2 separate regions of the Homo sapiens genome follow, and region 1 is linked to region 2. Evidence: fine-mapped expression QTL. Tissue or cell type: whole blood. Region 2 holds a variant in brackets; the other region holds the start of a gene. All regions are shown on one strand. Distances are from middle to middle.

Region 1 (11,772 bases), 84 kb after region 2:
GAACTGTCAGATACTAAATTTGTGTTATTTTAAGTCACTAAATGTGGGGTAATGTGTTATAAGAGGAACAAAACTGATACGGCTCTCATATTTTCAGTTTCTCATCATTTTGTTTTCTCTTACTATCTTCTCTCTGACACTTCATCACTGTCTGTTATTTTTACATGAAGTTCTCCTATCCATAGAAGCCATGTATTCTTGAATGTGTTGGACGGCAAATAACTCCCCGAAATGTTCTTCCTTCCTTAGCTTAAAATTATTTTTAGAGATTCATAGGTATGCCTCTGAGTTTTCTACTGATAACCTCTGCCTTGATTTTGTAGGATGTCTTGTTTCACTTGATTTATTTTCAAATGTTAATTTATCCAGAATATTTTAGCACTGAAAAAACTGTATAGATAATTTCTACATAAGCCAGTGTTTTCCATTTATCGATAAAGGGGACGGTGTTGAGGGGAGGCAGAAAATGAACTCCCTAGGAATGCAGACAAAGCAGAATCGGAAACTGGGAGGTTCTTTTTAAAACTGTACCTTCCCATCCTGAAAAAAAAAATCTGATATACCTCCTCTGCCCAGAGAGATTCAGTACTATATACTGAGTCACTGTGAATGACGGCAACGTATTATAATGCTCAAGCATGTTGTTCAAAAAAAAGAAAAATCTTCAACCTTTTCCACATAGATAATTAACTTGACTGGAAAGTTATTAATACCCAACAAAGGATATTTCTACCTACAGAGCTAAGTCTAAAACTTTCAATACAGTGCACCTTCCACCTGCTATAGGTAATAAACTATAATCCACAATTAGGACTTTGCCACAGGTATCCATATAGTTCATTATTCCATACCCTGCAATATTTGAATATTTTAACATTCAAAGTATGTAAAACAAATGTTATTTGGATTAACCTATCTTTCTTTTGTCATTGTCAAACTTTTAAATTGTTCAATACAATTGGTCTGTTATTTTTGCAACTACGTCACTAAATAATACTACTACAGAAGAACTAAGCTAGTTTATGCTGTTGTCATTCTCCACTTCAGTGGCTTAAAAGTCATGTGACTGACAAGAGTCTTTCATTAATGGAACTGTCTTTGCCTTTTGAGTCAAAAAAACTGTTAAACCACTGAATATGGAGTATTTACCTTTTTATTGTTTAACATTTCAAAATTACGAATTAAGTAGGAATCATTTATTTTTCATGGAAACATACACCTATCTCACTCTATTGTTGCAAAGATGCTGAACATTTCTACCATATAAAAAAGGTATAAATATATATAATGGTATGAAAAATTAGCTCTAGGCCTACATGATCCTTATCTGTTTAATAGGAAATTTGAGAATATCAAATATGATCAAATATGTATCACTATTTTCCATTAGTATTATTTTAGTCACTCTGGATGAATACCAAAAAACCACAAAATTCTAAGTAATATTGTTTAAGACATTAACACTTTGAGTCAAATCTACTGATATCAAAAACACAGATACATATGCACAAAGATTAAGGAGAAAGCTGGCTGAGTTTCGCGTTTCTACATAGAAGAATGTCCACTGGAGCAGGGACTCTCAAAAGATGCTTTGGCATTGGAGTGAGACAAAGAAATTCTTTATTGAGCTGATAGATCTCTACATTACACAATATTTATCATCTCTGAACTTCAGGATCCCAAAAGCCAGTAGTACTTCCTTTAAAGAAATTAGAATAATTTTAAAACACCCTGGCATATTTCAAATACCCCAGAGGTGTCACCCAGAATGGAAAACCATTCTGGAAATGGAAAACCAGAGCACTAGATTAACAGTCCTGGCCTCAGATCCCACTTCTTCTTCACAGCTTACCAAAAAGAGACGTATCTGACCGGTTCACATTACTCCACCGGTAGAGCTAACCCATTATAAACCACTAAGCACTGGAGATTTTCCATCTTTTATTAGACCTCTGCCCTACACCATGAAAAGCAGTAATTGTAAGTAAGCGTATCTGTTCCGCAATCTGAAATTTTTCTCTCAGCTGAACTAAAGTCTAGGTTCTGGGAAAGAGAGTAGGAGTAAAAGGGGATAGGAAGTACTAGTACTCATTTTTGGTCTCATTTTTGCATAAAGCACTATCCCCACTCGACTTGTTATTGCAAGTTGAAGTTGATATGGCAGGCGCCACATGTCTGTTTACAAACGCAAGAGAGGAAGGAAAGAGCTATTATTGAGCCCCTAAAAATCTCTAAATCCATTGTAATGCTCTCTCTAAGCCATTTGTCTTTATCCCTGTTTCTCTACCAGAAATGAACAGAGTTGAATAAAGAAAGAGTCAAGTACCAAACAGTTCAAATAAAATTACAAGTACTAACGAAATAACAGGTGCATATATACATTTATGCGTTTTACAAAAGCAATAGCTCTTTACCTCTTCAAGTTTTTCCTTATCCAATAACAACTTTTTATATCTACTACTGATATCCACTTTTATTGATAAAGCTAGATAGGGAATCAGACCAAAGAAAATAATGAACTCTATTTACAGATTTCTATATGAATATAGAAATCAGGAAAAGAGCCACAGTGAAAACAACCACAATTCTTTTTAGCCACAAATTAAAATGTTATAAAAGATTATTCACTTAAGTTTAAAAAAAAAAAAACAGTTCTAAGTATCAAGTAATGATATTCCAGTGGCATGTACTAAAAATAATCAGCTTTTCTTTGTCCAAAACGGACCTCGATAGATGAGAAAGTTTATGGATTTAATGTTCATCTCAAAAGTACAATTTTGGCCAGACGCGGTGGCTCACCCCTGTAATCTCAACACTTTGGGAGGCCGAGGCGGGCGGATCACCTGAGGTTGGGAGTTCGAGACCAGCCTGACCAACATGAAGAAACCCCGTCTGTACTAAAAATACAAAATTAGCCAGGTGTGGTGGTGCACTCCTGTAATCCCAGCTACTCGGGAGGCTGAGGCAGGAGAATTGCTTGAACCAGGAAGGCAGAGGTTGTGGTGAGCTGAGATAGCGCCATTGCACTCCAGCCTGGGCAACAAGAGTGAAACTCCGTCTCAAAAAAAAAAAAAAAATACAGTTTCACATTTTTCTCAAAATATTTGACAATGTTCTTTTTACTTGTTTAAATACCAGAATATGCTTTAAGAGGTTATGATCAAAGGGCATTTGGGATAAAACATAGATTACATGGTTTTGTAAGATAGCAACAAATAACTGAACATTAGTAGTTCCCGTTTGTTAGTGCTCAAAAAAACAAAAAAGTACAATGGGAAAGGGGGCCCCAAAAGGGAACTGCAGATGACTGAAGGCCTTGAACAAAGGTATGTTATGGTAAGAGGCACTGTGGAAGAAAGGCAAAAGCCCCACTCTGCTCCCAGCTATGTAGCCTTGGGTAAAAGTTACTTAGTCTCTCTGTAGGATGAGGCAAGTGGGAGAGAATAATTTCCTTATCCCTAAAGAAGTTGAACAAAAACAGGGTCCATTTAGGCTTAAAATTGTGCATTTTTCTGAGGAGCAAGTCAATAGCTTTCCTTGGTTTCTCAAAGTGGTAAATGACACCAAAAAGGTTAGTCATCCTCGCATTAAAAGGTAATGTTTCCCAATCTTTTCAGGTATATATATATATCTATATATATATATATATCTAGTGATATTAAAGAGGAAAAGGTGTCATTCAAGACATTACAGGTTCTACCTAACCAGAACCAACACAGAATCAATAATGAATAGATGAGTTAATTTCTTCCCCATTTCTAAATAACCCTAAGATTAAAAAAAAAAAAAATCACAAGGGAAATTTGAAAATACTTAAAGCTGAATGGCAATACTTATACGTGTTTATAAATTTGGATCATATACACAAAAAGATTAAAAGTGTAATCAATAATGCTTTACATTTGTGTGGATCATTACTTTAATGATACTTTCACAACCAATTATTCCTCCTTTTTTAGGAAGGAAGGGCATATCCTAGAGTCTCCAATTTACAGATAACGAAACAATTATTGCCCAAGGACAAACATTTCTTAACCATGCCAGTTTCCTGACTTGTAGGCCAATGCTCCTCCCAATGTTAACAAGCAGCACAAGCTTCCTTCCTGGGGGTTTGCACTGTAAACCTGCCAGAGGAAAATAAAAGATTTTTACCTCTTTTGTTTTTTCTCTCTGGAATGTTTGTTGTGCTGAATCATTAGGAGACAGAGTATATGAGCAAACAAAGGCAGATTTAAAATGGTTATCTGAGGTTACCATCTCACACCATACTTGTTGATCATTAAGTATGAGCCGAGTGAAGCAAAAACAGCTCTACAGGTTTAGCACACCTCTCCACAGTAGAGAATGAAAGGGAGATTATACATTGGGGCTCCTCTAGCAATAAATTGCTTCAACTTCTTCAGGAGGCTTATTAAGCTCAAACAAGCAGCAGAGAACTCCAAGTAGAAGAAACCTAATCTCCAATCCCCTTTTCCTAGTCATCCACGCGGACACCAACATCTGATGGATTCAGGAATACACCAAGCTCCAAGAAAAATACCCCCGCCCCACAACCTCACCACCACCGATAAAGCCACCTAATCCTGTCTGAATCTCTTCTCTGCAAATGTTTTGGTATGCAAATACTCGTTCATTAATAAGAGGAAGCAGGAAAAAGAGTGAAGAGGAGTACCATGGGAAAGGGGGCCCCAAAAGGGAACGGCAGAACCCAGAGAGCTGCACTGACAAGTAAGCGACCGCGAGTAATCGGTCAGCACAAAGGAGCCAATCCCGAGCCGCGTGGAAGACCTTGGGAGGTGGGCGGGACTAACGTGTCCAGGGCCCAGCGGCTGGCGCCAGACACGCTGGCAGGGCGGGAACCGCGCGTTCCTTAGCAACCGCAATGGCCACGCCCACCGAACCCAGCACCCTCCATCCCCCATCCCGCAGCCAGCGCCCTACTCAACGGGAACGGGTCCTTCAGTGATCACCGTACCTACTGGGTTTCCCGGACTCCGGGTTTCTCTTGCAGAGCCTCCCTCCGCCCAGCCCCACCAAGTGCCGCTCCCAGGGACGGAACGATCGTCTCCCAAACGCTTTAGGGCTCGCTAAAGAGGTGCGCCCGCTTTCATTCCCGGACCCCGAGCTTCCCGGGCAGGGTCTCCCCAATCCCCTCGCACTCGCCGGACACACACCTCAGCTCTGCCAAGGCAAGGGCCGACAAACTTCGTGTCCTGTGGGAAATGTTGCTGTCCACGGTTCTGTCACTCAGGGGCAGGGGCGGGACAAGCCAGCCGCACACCCCTACTCCCAAAGGGTGAGGCGGAAAAGAGGCGAGGCTCTGCCCCCAGGGGCGGGACCAGGCCTCAGCCTGCTCTCGGATTGGTCGGCCTTTCTCCCGTCTGTACGCCGGTCCAGGACGCAAAGGCGCTGGCCCTGAGGCCTTTCCCTCATTTTGATGCCACTCCGGAGTTCTAATACCTGTCTCACGAGGTGACTGTAGAAATTAAAAATAAAGACTGTGACTTGTTTAGTTAATATAAAACGGAAAAATATGTTATTTTGATTATTGAACCCTCCCATCTCACACACACACACTCCCCAATTCACAGGATCATCCCTAAGGAGCGTCCCTAAGTGGAAGGGCGCACTGTCTGTGTAAACAATCAATTAATTGCCCATTCAAACAGCAAAAAAGAAAAAAAAATCGTTTTATATTAACATTAACCAGAGATTAATAAATTTAGGAAAGATTGCAAAAACGTGACTGACAATTAGGATTTAGGAGCCTATGTTCGGGTACTCAATTTTCACATCTACAAAATGGGAATGAAATATTAAGATGTTACTTATTGGAAAAGTATTCAAATATTAAATGCTTTATAAATTATACTCATGTAATCCTTACAAAACCCACTAAGAGTATTATCCACAGCCTATGGACAATGAAACACAGGCTAGGAAAGGCTAGATTTATTCAACCATTCAACAAATCTAAGTGCCTGCAGCCATCATTTTTTAATATTGTGGTGAACTAAATCTAAAATTCCTTCAAAAAATTATGCAACCTCCAATTTAATTTTTCTCTTGCTCACATAAAAGTCACCTTCCTCTAGGCCAGCCCCATCATATCTTTTTCCAAAAGCCCTTGAGAAAGAAAGTAGCATACAAAAAAAAAAAAAAAAAAAAAACTGAGACAAGTATAAATAGACTAACCAGAAGGCTTTCTGAAATCTCACAGAATATTATGGCCAGGAATTGAATCCAAAATGTAATTTTATTTTCCGTCCTCCTAAATCATTTTCTGGTCTCCAGTTCCTCTCCCAGAAATAAAGGTAGAGTTAAATGAGATTATATTAATACACTTAACCAGATTACTTATGTGTGTGGCTTTAAAATAGTGAAACTCTTTTTCCTTCCATATTAAACCAAAACCCAGAAGGGTTTATCTTGTCTGATAGATACGGTTGTAGTAAGAAAAAAGAAAAAAAAAAAGAGTACCTCTGGACAAGTGCCTTGAGATTCAATTAAAATGTTCATCGTACTGTGATGCAATTGTTGGAATAAAAGAAACCCATTCCAATTACAAATAATTTTACACTCTTGACCTGCTGAATATCCAAATTCTTCTGAAAGCTTGCTAAATGTGAATAACTCTCTATAAAACTTTCTTGATTTGTATGACTCAGAGTCCCCATTTTCTTTAATCTTTTAAAAATATTTGGTTTGGCCAGGTGTGGTGGTTCATGCCTGTAATCCCAGCACTTTGGGAAGCTGAGGTGGACGGATTGCCTGAGGTCAGGAGTTCCAGACCAGCCTGGCCAACATGGTGAAACCCCGTCTCTACTAAAAATACAAAAATTAGGCAGGCATGGTGGCAGGCACCTGTAATCCCAGCTACTCAGGAGCCTGAGGCAGGAGAATTGCTTGAGCCCGGGAGGCAGAGGTTGCAGTGAGCCGAGATTGCATCATTGCACTCCAGCCTGGGCAACTGAGTGGGACTCCATCTCAAAAAAAAAAAAAAAAAAAAATTAGTTTTAGACTAAAAAGAAAGAGTTATGATTATATATTAATAAATATATAAATAAATGCTGTAAGATTTAAATAAAAGTGGTGAATGTACTTGAGTCCATTTTCATTACATAAAGATGTACAGCAATGCATTTGTACAGCAAATGCATTGAATATTCTCACATATGTAAGATATTATACAACAAGAAGTAAATAGCTTAATGTAAAATTAAAACTTCCAGATGTATGTTATATGCTTATTTCTTTACCATATAAAGACATATATTATTGACTTACATTTCTAGCAAATTGAAATATAATTGGCTGCATAGTATTCTATGGTGTATATGTGCCACATTTTCTTTATCCAGTCTATTATTGATGGGCATTTGGGTTGGTTCCAAGTCTTTGCTATTGTGAATAGTGCTGCAATAAACATACGTTGGCATGTGTCTTTATAGTAGCATGATTTATAATCCTTTGGGCATATACCCAGTAATGGAATTCCTGGGTCAAATGGCGTTTCTGGTTCTAGATCCTTGAGGAATCACCACACTGTCTTCTACAATGGTTGAACTAATTGACACTCCCACCAACAGTGTAAAAGCATTCCTATTTCTCCACATCCTCTCCAGCATCTGTTGTTTCCTGCCTTTTTAATGATCACCATTCTAACTAGCATGAGATGGTATCTCATTGTGGTTTTGATTTGCATTTCTGTAATGACCAGTGATAATGAGCTTTTTTTATATGCTTATTGGACGCATAAATGTATTCTTTTGAAAAGTGTCTGTTCATATCCTTCACCCACTTTTTGATGCGGTTGTTTGTTTTTTTCTTGTAAATTTGTTTAAGTTCCTTGTAGATTCTGGATATTAGCCCTTTGTCAGATGGATAGATTGCAAAAGGTTTCTCCCATTCTGTAGGTTGCCTGTTTACTCTAATGATAATTTCTTCAGCTATACAGAAGCTCTTCAGTTTAATTAGATCCCATTTGTCAATTTTGGCTTTTGTTGCAACTGCTTTTGGAATTTTAGTTATAAGTCTCTGCCCATGCTTATGTCCCGAATGATATTGCCTAGGTTTTCTTCTAGGGATTTTATGGTTTTAGGTCTTACGTTTAAGTCTTTCATTCATCTTGAGTTAATATTTATATAAGGTATAAGGAAGGGGTCCAGTTTCAGTTTCCTGCATATAGCTAGCCAGTTTTCCCAACACCATTTATTAAATAGGGAATCCTTTCCCCATTGCTTGTTTTTGTCAGGTTTGTCAAAGATCAGATGGTTGTAGGTGTGTGGTGTTATTTGTGAGGCCTCAGTTCTGTTCCACTGGTCTATATATCTGTTTTGGTACCAGTACCATGCTGTTTTGGTTACTGTAGTATAGATTGAAGTCAGGTAACATGATGCCCCTCTTTGTTCTTTTTGCTTAGGATTTTCTTGGCTATATGGGCTCTTTTTTGGTTACATATTTAGAATTATGTTTCTGTGTTTCCAAGTATTTGAGAGTTGTCTAATATCTTACAGTTATTGACTTTTAATTCCATTGTAGTTAGAAAATATATATTGTAATATTTCAAATTTTATTGAAAATTATTGACACATATATTATAACCCAACATATGGTTTATCTTTATGACTGTTCTCAGTGTATTTGGAAAAAAAATGTGTATTCTGAAATTATGGAATGCAGTATGCTCTAAATGTTGATTATAGTCTATATCTTATGACAGTTTTTTTTTTTTGCTTTTAAAAACATTTTATTTATTTATTTTATTTTTTCATTTTACTTTAAGTTCTAGGATACATGTGCAGAATGTGCAGATTTGTTACTTAGGTATACATATGCCATAGTGATCCTTACCAACATTTTTAAGCATATTCTATCACTTATTGAAAGAAAGGTGTTAAATCTCCAACTATGCTTGTGCATTTGTTTATATTTTCTTTTTTTAAAAAAAATTAATTTTTTTTAAATTTTAGGTTCCAGGATACATTTGCAGAATATGTGGGTTTGTTACACAGGTAAACTTGTGCCATGCTGGTTTGCTGCACCTATCAACCCATCCCTTAGATATTAAGCCCAGCATGCATTAGTTATTTATCCTGATGCTCTCCCTCTCCAAATCCTCCCCTAGCAGGTCCCTGTGTATGTTGTTCCCCTCCCTGTGTCCATGTGTTCTCATTGTTCAGCTCCCACTTATAAGTGAGAATATTCAGTGTTTGGTTTTCTGTTCTTACATTAGTTTGCCGAGGGTAATGGCTTCTGGCTCCATTCACGTTCCTGCAAAGGACATGATCTCATTCCTTTTTATGGCTGCATAGTATTCCATGGTGTATATGTACCACATTTTCTTTATCCAGTCTATCATTGATGGGCATTTGGGTTGATTCTATGTCTTTGCTATGGTGCATAGTGCTGCAATGAACATGCGCATGCATGTATCTTTATAATAGAATGATTTGTATTCCTTTGGGTATATACCAAGCAATGGGATTGCTGAGTGGAATGGTGGTTCTGCAGTTCTGCTTCTAGGTCTTTAAGGAATTGCCACACTGTCTTCCACAATGGTTGAACTAATTTACATTTCCACCAACAGTGTAAAAGTGTTCCTATTTCTCCACAGTCTCACCAGCATCTGTTGTTTCTTGACTTTTTAATAATTGCCATTCTGACTGGTGTGAAATGGTATCTCATTATAGGTTTTGTTTGCATTTCTCTAATGATCAGTGATGTTGAACTTTTTTTCATATGTTTCTTGGCCACATAGATGTCTTCTTTTGAGATGTCCCTGTTCGTGTCTTTTGCCCACTTTTTAATGGGGTTGTTTTTCTCTTGTAAATCTGTTTAAGTTCCCTGTAGATTGTAGATATTAGACCTTTGTCAGATGGATAGACTGCAAAAATTGTCTCCCATTCTGTAGGTTATCTTTTCACTCATGATAGTTTCTTTTGCTATGCAGAAGCTCTTTAGTTTAATTAGGTCTCATTTTTCAATTTTTGCTTTTGTTGCAATTGCTTTTGATCTTTTGTCATGAAATCTTTGCCCATGTCTATGTCCTGAATGGTACTGCCTAGATTTTCTTCTAGGGTTTTTATAGTTTTGGGTTTTACATTTAAGTCTTTAATGCATCTTGAATTATTTTTTGTATAAGGTATAAGGTCGGGGTCTAGTTTCAGTTTTCTACATATGGCTAGTCAGTTTTTCCAGCGCTGTTTATTAAATAGGGAATCCTTTCCCCATTGCTTGTTTTTTTCCTGTTTGTCAAAAATCAGATGGTTGTAGATGTGTGGTCTTATTTCTGAGTTCTCTATCTGTTCCATTGGTCTATGTGTCTGTTTTTGTACCAACACCGTGCTTCTTTGGTTACTGTAGCCTTGTAGTATAGTTTAAAGTTACACACACAAGGGAACAAGACAAGGATGCCCTCTCTCACCACTCCTGTTCAGCATGGTATTGGAAGATATGGCCTGGGCAATCAGGCAAAAGAAAAAAATAAAGGGTATTCAAATAGGAAGAGAGAAGTCAAACTGTCTCTGTTTGCAGATGACATGATCCTGTAGCTAGAAAACCCCATTGTCTCAGCCCAAAAGCTTCTTAAGCTGCTAAACAACATCAGAAAAGTCTCAGGATACAACATCAATGTGCAAAAATCACAAGCAATTTTATACACCAACAATAGACAAGCAGAAAGCTAAATCATGAATGAACTTCCATTCACAATTGCTACGAAGAGAATAAAATACCTAGATATACAGCTAACAAGGGATGTGAAGGACCTCTTCAAGGAGAACTACAAACCACTGCTCAAGGAAATCAGAGAGGACACAAACAAATGGAAAAACATTCTCCATGCTCATGAATAGGAAATATCAATATCCTGAAAATGGCCATATTGCCCAAAGTAATTTACAAACTCAATGCTATTCCTATTAAACTACCATCGACAGTCTTCACAGAATTAGAGAAAACTACTGTAAAGTTTATATGGAACCAAAAAAGAGCTCATATAGCCAAGACAATCCTAAATAAAAAGAACAGAGCTAGAGGCATCACGGTATCCAACTTCAAACTATATTTTCTTTAGTTGTGTTAATTCTTTCATTATATATTTTGAAGGTCTGTTACTAGGCTCATACACATCTAGAATTATTATGATTTCCTGATGAATCAACACTTTTATCATTATGCAATGTTGACCTTTTTATCTCTGGTTATACTTGGTGGTGAAGAATATTTGCCTGATATTAATAATCTTAGATTAGATGTATTATGCCTGTTGTTTCTACTAGATCCATTTCCTTGCCTTTACATTTAAGCTATCTATGCCTTTATAGCTCTATCTCTTGTATACAATATATTGTTGAATTTGCATTTTTTCCAGTCTGACAATCTTTGATTTGTTATAAAAATATTTATTCAATTTCCATGTAACATAGTTATTAATATGAAGGGTATAAGTCTATCATTTTTCTTTGTATTTTTTATTTTTCATTTTTACCTTTCTCCTCCATTTATACTTTCCTTTTTTTATTTGCTTTAGTCAAAAATGTTTAGACTTCCAGTTTGTGCTTCTAATGGTTCTTTAGCTATATTCTTTTTGTTATTTTATTTGTGGTTATTCTAGAGGTAACAATCTATATTGTTATGCTGAGAATCATCAATGTTGCATTCATTTAATATTATGTTCTAAGAGTAGTGCCCTGTGCTCCTCCTTCACACCACCCCCCAGTTTTCTGCCTAGCTCCAACTTTCTACTTGCTTTGGCATTATGCCATTTGG
Region 2 (7,600 bases):
ATAAGTTAAACACACAGAGACCAGTATCTTTAAACAAAATAGAATTGCATCACATTAATATTTTATAACTGCTTTTTCACCTACTCCTAAATTGGATATTTACATCACTTTCACTTTTTTGGTCATAAACAGTGATGCGGTTAATACATTTTTGCATACTACTGTCATTGTCACATATAGACGAATTTCTAAAGTATATATGAAATGTAAAGCTTTTGAAACATAAGTGCGTTCCAGAAAGTGTGTGAGATTATCATTCCCTCAAGCAGTGAATGAAAGAGATTGTTTCTTCACATCCTTAATTAACACTGAGTACCAGGCTGCATGTTAGATTTTAATTTAATGTGTTATAATCCAACAGTATTCCCTTTATGATTTCTAACTCATGAATCAACGCCTAGAAATAATTTTCCTTACAAAATGATTCTAAAAACGTCTACCTATAATTTCTTCTAATACTTTTTATGGTTTCATTTTTTATATAGAAATCATAAATTCCACCAGAATTCATCTTGTTTTAAGTCATGATATAGGCATCTTTTAATTTCTAAAAGGATACTAAATTGTTCCAATACATTTAATTAATCTATCTTTCCATCTGCATGACATACATAATGCATTAAATGAATATTTATATTTAGATCTGTTTCTGGACACTGCATTTTTTTCTGTTGATCTGTCTACTTTTCATTGACTATGACATTATTTTAGTTACTATAACTTTATAATATACTTTAATATATTGCAGATCAAGTTTCCCTTTTCTGTTTACAAAATAGAGGAAAATTTACATTTGTACAATGTTGAACCTTCCTATCCATGGAGACAGTTGGTGTCTTTTCAATTAAAACTTCATTATGTTATCTTGTAGAGCTTTTTTTTCAATGAACACTCATACATTTCTGCTCATTTTTTCTACATAGTCCATAATTTTAATTGCAATGGTGAAACACGTTTTTCTATTATGATATTTAACTAATTATTCTAATTATTGTGTTAATATAGAGAACAATAAAACTATTGATTATTACATACTTATTATCTAAAGAAATATGTTATATAAATCTTATACAATATTTTCTTAGTTTTCTAGTCAACCACATAATCTTAAAATTTTAGTTTTTTCCATTTTTTGCCATATTTATTATTTATTCCTGCTGTCTTAAAAACTGAATTACACTGGCTATCACTTTCAGAAAAATGTATAACAATGTAAAAGCATTAAACTCATGATTTTAATGAGAATACTTCTAATATTAAGCATGATAATTGAATTCTCATCTCAGTACTGAAAAGAATGATGATGGCAATGGGCTGAAACACATCATATATATAAAATATATAACTAGATTATAATAATAAAAGCAGCAACAGCAATAACAATGGCAAATCTTCATTGGCCACCATTAGAGAGTGCTAATTCATTAATCTGAAATTTAAGAAAGGGAAAGACTCAAGTATTTATCCTTCCTCTCCTGTATAAGCTGTATTTTCAGATGATCAAATAGTTGATAAAGAAGATTATTTTTAAACATAATAATTCCACTTAATATATGCTGAAGGAATGAAAGAAAATCACCATTTTGCAATGCCTGATGAGATAATGCATCCAGGAAAGGTGATGTTGATGAAAAAACCTTATTTTGCAGGAAATCACATTACTAGCACATCAATTCACTGATAAGTCTAACATCACAAATGAGACCACCAAGTATTATGTAACTCATTAAGTACTACGAAATACTCTCAGCTTAAGAACTAACAAACCACAGTCATAAAAAACTGGACCTAATCTAGCTTAATATCTCATTATCGGGTTATAGAAAATAAGAAAAATATAGGAATAAAATGACTAACACAATGAAAAGTACTAAATCTAGATTACTTGACATTCGAAAGGACAAATAAACAGCAAACAAAATTGCTGTTTTCTTCAGCAATTCAATGGCCTGGATTATTTTTTTACAGAATAAAAGAAATTTAAGAGACACGCAACCAAATTCAGCATGGACTTAATTTTAAAATCTCTTGTAAATAGCCATCTTGGAAACAATTAGGGACATCTGAATATTGACAGTATTAGATTATATTAGGAAATATATATATATTCTACCAATAGCTTTCTGGTAATATAAAAACAAAACAAAACAAAAAACCAACCAACAAAAATCCCAACATTCTTGTCAGTTAGAGATGCATACTGAAATATTTACAGTAAAATGACATCATATCTGAAGTCTGCTTTAAAATACCTCAGTATAAAAAAATGGTGAAAATATGCAAAAGAGTGGGGATACATTAATAATTATTGAAACTAGGTAATGGGTAGATTGAGATTATTACATTATTCTCTCTACTTTTGTGTAATACATGTGGTTAGTGATAAAAAAAGCAAGCAAGAAGTAAGAGAGAGGGGAAAAGCAGGTGAGGATCAATGACGAGTCTAAATAAAAGGGTAGAGGTAGTTAACACAGTAAGTACATAGTTAAGTACGTGAGAGTGCTAACCTATTAAAGTAGAAGTGAGGTTCAAAAAAAAAAAAAACTGAAAGAAGAGAGACTGCCTGGAACTTAGAATTAAGGCAAATAGGGTAGAAGTTGAAGAGCTGGAGAAGGGAGCAAAAGCACTCTTAAGCTACCTAGAAGGGCACTCCCTATCTGGATCACAAATGTTTGGGAGGTAGCATCATAAAAGATTTTCATGTATGGGGTATTTCTCTTTAGTTTACCAACTTCCACACTGTTGTTTAGTGTAAAGCATCCTAATAGGCGCTAAGATTATAAACTCCACCTCATGGCCACTACAGCAAGAATTATATCCAACATTGTTTATAAAATCTTATTTTAGAAATTGCTGCAATTTAAGAGACTTTAAAGATATCTTCAATCTCACTATATCAACATGAAAAGAAAATCCCTCTGAATTTTGTGTTATCCTAGGACATACCTAGAAGGCAATCCAGTGAAGACCTGCCTTGTCACATTCAACAGAGTAATTGCAGAAGCAATTTGTTACAAGCAGATGGATAGTTGAACACTAAAAAGGATGATAAGCTAGAAAGAAATTAGATATTGAAATCAATTTCTTTTAGGCTTACCATGATACTTCAGTTTCACACAAACAATTGTATTTGAAGAAGTCAGGGAAAAAAATGCCATACTAAGATGGGTGCCCATGAAAACAGAACTTTACACATGCTATAGCCTTCATAGTCACCATTTACTTGATTGGTCCAAATATTTATAGTTCATTGTTATGACTGCCAAAACTGGCAACCACAAGGATTGTTGTCTCAATTAGGACAGTAAACAGATTGTCTCTTTTTTTAATGAAAAAATCTAAAATGTAATACTTCACAGTTTAACATGTTTATTCATCTAAACGAGCTAAAAAATAATGGTGCGACATCTGTTCGAGAGGCATTGGTACCTCAAATTTTGGCTGCCTCCCCACCAATTTGGTTGTTGTTTTAAAAAATGAAGAATAGGAGGGAGTACTGTCATCAAAAAATCTTCTGGCATGTAACGTATCTTATTTTTCTTGAAATAAGAATCACATATCTGTTGCTAGGGATAGAAAAACTGTATAACAAGGAGGCACTATGCTGAATGTGGCTACAGTTCAATTGTTTAACTCAATTACTGACCCACTATGGATATTTCCATACTGATATAGTTCTTTACATGACTCTCCCAGTTCCCTCTCTACTTACCTTTATAGCTAAAATATCAACAAAATGGTAAGAATGTTCCTGTAGGTTGAATTCATCTGCTACATTTTTTTTTTAACCGTGGGTTGCACTGATTCTAAATATGGTTTAAGTGGAACAAAATCTAGCAAACAGCATTCTATCCAGGCTGCATTGGAGCAATTCTAATAAAAGAAGGCAGTGCTGCTAAGGGAGAAGTGGTAGGAATCTCCCAGAGAAGCCCCAGGTAAGTGTAAAGAAGTCTAATTGTTGGTGAGGAGAGAATACAAAATTATCTTAGGTAGTCTCTGGCTCAACAACTTTATGTTATGGATGAAATACATTAAAATAGGCTGGGTTTAATTTCTAGAAGTATATTTCTGACGCTGATGTATAGCACAATTTGCTCTACTGAATTATCATTGAGTATATAATTTTAGAACCTGGAAAATACAGTGTTTTAGTAGTCACATAAACATTATAATGAAAATTGAGTTCTATTTTCATTTGGAGTGAAAATGCATGCTAAGTTGAATTCAAACATTGAGTATAGTTTTTAATAAATTCTAAGATAAAAATAGCATATTTGATTCCCTAGAAAAGAGCAATGTTTCTATTTTATAGCGACCTTAATGCTAGTTGTCTTGATTTAAAGAGAATCAGGATGAAACACGTATATATCTCAGTACAACCAAGGACCATAAATGGTAAATGCCGAGTTGATTGATATTGTGATTTTTAAGTTTTATTGATTAAATTCAAACTTTTTTATCATTTACACAAAGAAACTGTGACAGACTCTGAGAGGACTAAAAGGCATCAACTTAAATTTTAACATGCATTTATTAAATTTATATG[C/A]AGATGACTACACTACTGCAATTACAGAAATGAGTAAGAACATACTCTCAAGATCTTACAGTCATTGGTTGGGGTGAAAGTATTTCTTCTGTCTTCATGAAAAATTAAAAAGATAGAAAATCTTGAAGTATTTTGCTACCTTAAAACAACTACCCACCCTACATTTGTACTAAAATAGGCTTTTGCTTGTTTTAAAAGCAATTCTAGATGAGGTTATATTTTTACAATACTGTATCTCATCTCAAATAAATTTATACATTCTTTACCCTGTCTAAACTTGCATGCAAAATAAGAACCAGCAAGCCTTCAAACTTCAATCACAGTATTCCATAGGCTATATTTTAAGTCTATTGCATTAGTTGAAATTTATTTTGCAGAGTATGTTAACAAACATATTCTAACACTTAAAAAATCATTACAATTTTTTCTGTTTTTGTCTTCTAAATTACTCTGAGCAGTGAATTACTGGAGGGAAGATACCCATGTCTAAAATTTGTGTCTGGTGCCAGTCTCAGATTTCTGCCAAACACCAGTAGGTATTCAAAAGTGTGGTCCCTTTAAAACAGCAGGCCGGATATCACCTTTCTGTCTTCAAAGATTCAAACCAGACTCCCAATCTGGGATTTCTCTACAGAGGGTTGGCTGCTTCCCAGTTAATGTGAGTTTTGCAAAGTTTGCATTTCATGAAAACAGTGTTGTGTAAACATATATTGTGTCACTTTACCTACTATTTACTAAAATCAGAGAGTTTAGCCTTTGAAATTTATGGTTCTCTGGAGCTATCATAAATCAATCAGTCATACGAATGGACTAGCTGTAGACTCAGGATATCAATAAAACTAGGCAGTGAAATTTGCCTATAATTATACTATATTTAGATTAATAGTTATCAAAAACATTTTTCCCCAAAAAATACCTCAAGGGTAAAACAGAATGGTAAAGTTTTTTTCAGGATAATGAATTTTCAAACATTTCCAAGACCATAACCAGCCATTTTAAGTACTGTAAACTCTGTTATATTTCATTTGGATAAGTATCTAATAAGCAATTATTACATATCCTCTCATTTAAATTACCACTGAAAACTAGAAATAATCTTTATTTAATACGACTGTTTTAACACCATATGGAACGGGAAATAACTAAATGAAAATTGTTCACGTAAATGTGATGGGAGTGGGGGGGTGGGGAGCAGTATTTCTTGACATGTGGCATGTCACTCAGGAAAGTAAAAGGCCCATCATATCCAAAATGCCAGCTTGGATATTCCCTTGCCACCCACTTGACGAACAGACATACCACATGGCATTAAATGCTGCAACCTTTCCTAAAAATGCCACTTGGATTGGTCCGCTGTGGTGAGTATATAAGAACTCTTGGTCTGTCTCTTGAGTCTGTGAGTTCAAAGGGAAGAATCTAGTAAATAACACCGGCTAAATTTTGCCCTCAGATGTTTGGCATAAATGATTTGTGAGGATATTGGAACCTTTGGCTGTTTTCACACCAATGAAATAAATTATGCTACTTGAAAAAAATTCTACAGAACATAATGCTACACAGTCACAGTCGACTTTTTGCAAAAGTACCAGAGAATATCTTTTAGAAACAGTGCTTATAAAGCCCCATATACTCCTTAGATATTTCCCAAGGATTTCTTCTCTTGGCTAGCAGGAAAACAATCTTAATATTTTATTTATTCTTCATAAATACAATGTATATAATATAAAACACTTTGTGCACATGTTTCCAACAATTTCATTTTCTATGCATCTTTACATAAGGTAGTAGCTAATAACTCTTTCTGTGGACACGTATTTTCCAGTTTTCTAAGGTTTATGTGTTCAAGCATTGTAAAAACATATTTAAAAATTGAATTACCAGTAAAAATATTGAATGTACAGGTCATTATGCTCCCACAAATACAAAATACATTGAAAAATTATATCAACAGATAATTACATATGAAATATGAGGCATATATTTTCTTCTATTATTTATTTTCTCCCTAAAGAGTTCTAATTGATTAAATCTCAAGAGACAAAATGTAATTTTATAAAACAACTGTATTGTTCAGATTTAGGAGACAACCTAAGAAGATGATTCTGAGTAGGTAGGATTTTTGCTATTACTGTTATGTGAAAAAGACTGCTCAATTAAATGACAGATTGTTACATATCTCCCTAACAAGAGGGGCGAACTGATACTACAAGCAGCCAGAACAACATAATTAGAATAGAATTCCAAGGTTATATTAATAGAGTAATAAGTTAATTAAAACCAAGATCAACTGAGCTTCTATTTACACCAGTTCAGACAGCCCAAGAGGAAAAGAACTCTATTTTAGAGACATATGTGACTCTTTGAGCTTCTGTCATCCAGGTGCCATTTCTGATGCAGCACATGTGCACTGAACAGTTGGCAAAGAAGGAAAAAGATTATGGTAGATGTATGTGCAGATAGTCTCTCTAATGATGTAAAATACGTCCAGAAAGAAAGCAGGGCTTTGTTGTAAAATAAAAAATTTCCCATGACTTTTTGTTCTTTCTGAATGTGATTTGAGCATGTTTCTGTAAATAAGAATATATACTAACTTATGATGTATATAGAACAAAAATAGACTTACTCATCAGGAAGTGATGGAATTATACACATAAATTGGCAATGACATTTGAAAAATTTAGGATCTGGTTCCCATTTCATCTAAATGTACCATGTATAGGGTGGCTGTCAAAGCAGAAAGATATATAAAAGTATCCAGTAGCACATACTATACTGCATTGCTAGGTAAGGTTCTTTTCCTGACATCCTATGCAACTATCAAAAATCATATGTCTGCAAACTGAAAATATTAGCAGAAAGAATTAAAGATGTTACAGTTTCAGTATTGAAAGTTTTGGTCCCAAAAGGTGCTTTCGTAAAGTTATTTCTCTTTCATGCATTGATTGTTGCTTAGCTAATCTTCATCTTGGTCCAGATCAGGGTCAACATCCGTGGTGAGTCTGAGATAAAAGAAAGCATAGAAAGCCAGTAGTAGTGCCAATATAGCTGCAAGTA

The links. PIP is the estimated chance that this variant, and not a neighbour inherited with it, causes the effect.
Region 1: TRIQK starts here. The variant in region 2 is fine-mapped to the expression of TRIQK in whole blood (INTERVAL, PIP 0.98).

The regions. Positions count from the first base shown.
Region 1 is chr8:92,960,833-92,972,604 of GRCh38, forward strand. TRIQK (triple QxxK/R motif containing) reads right to left here and starts at 5,312. Exons shown (of 5, transcript NM_001171797.2): 1 at 5,175-5,312. It also overlaps the pseudogene IRF5P1. RefSeq lists an enhancer at 4,519-4,628 and a silencer at 5,299-5,408.
Region 2 is chr8:92,879,123-92,886,722 of GRCh38, forward strand. TRIQK (triple QxxK/R motif containing) reads right to left here. Exons shown (of 5, transcript NM_001171797.2): 5 at 4,412-7,600. The coding sequence ends at 7,500. Among named protein-coding and RNA genes, the nearest start is that of TRIQK, 83 kb to the right of the region's middle. The variant C/A (reference allele first, on the strand shown) is at 4,547.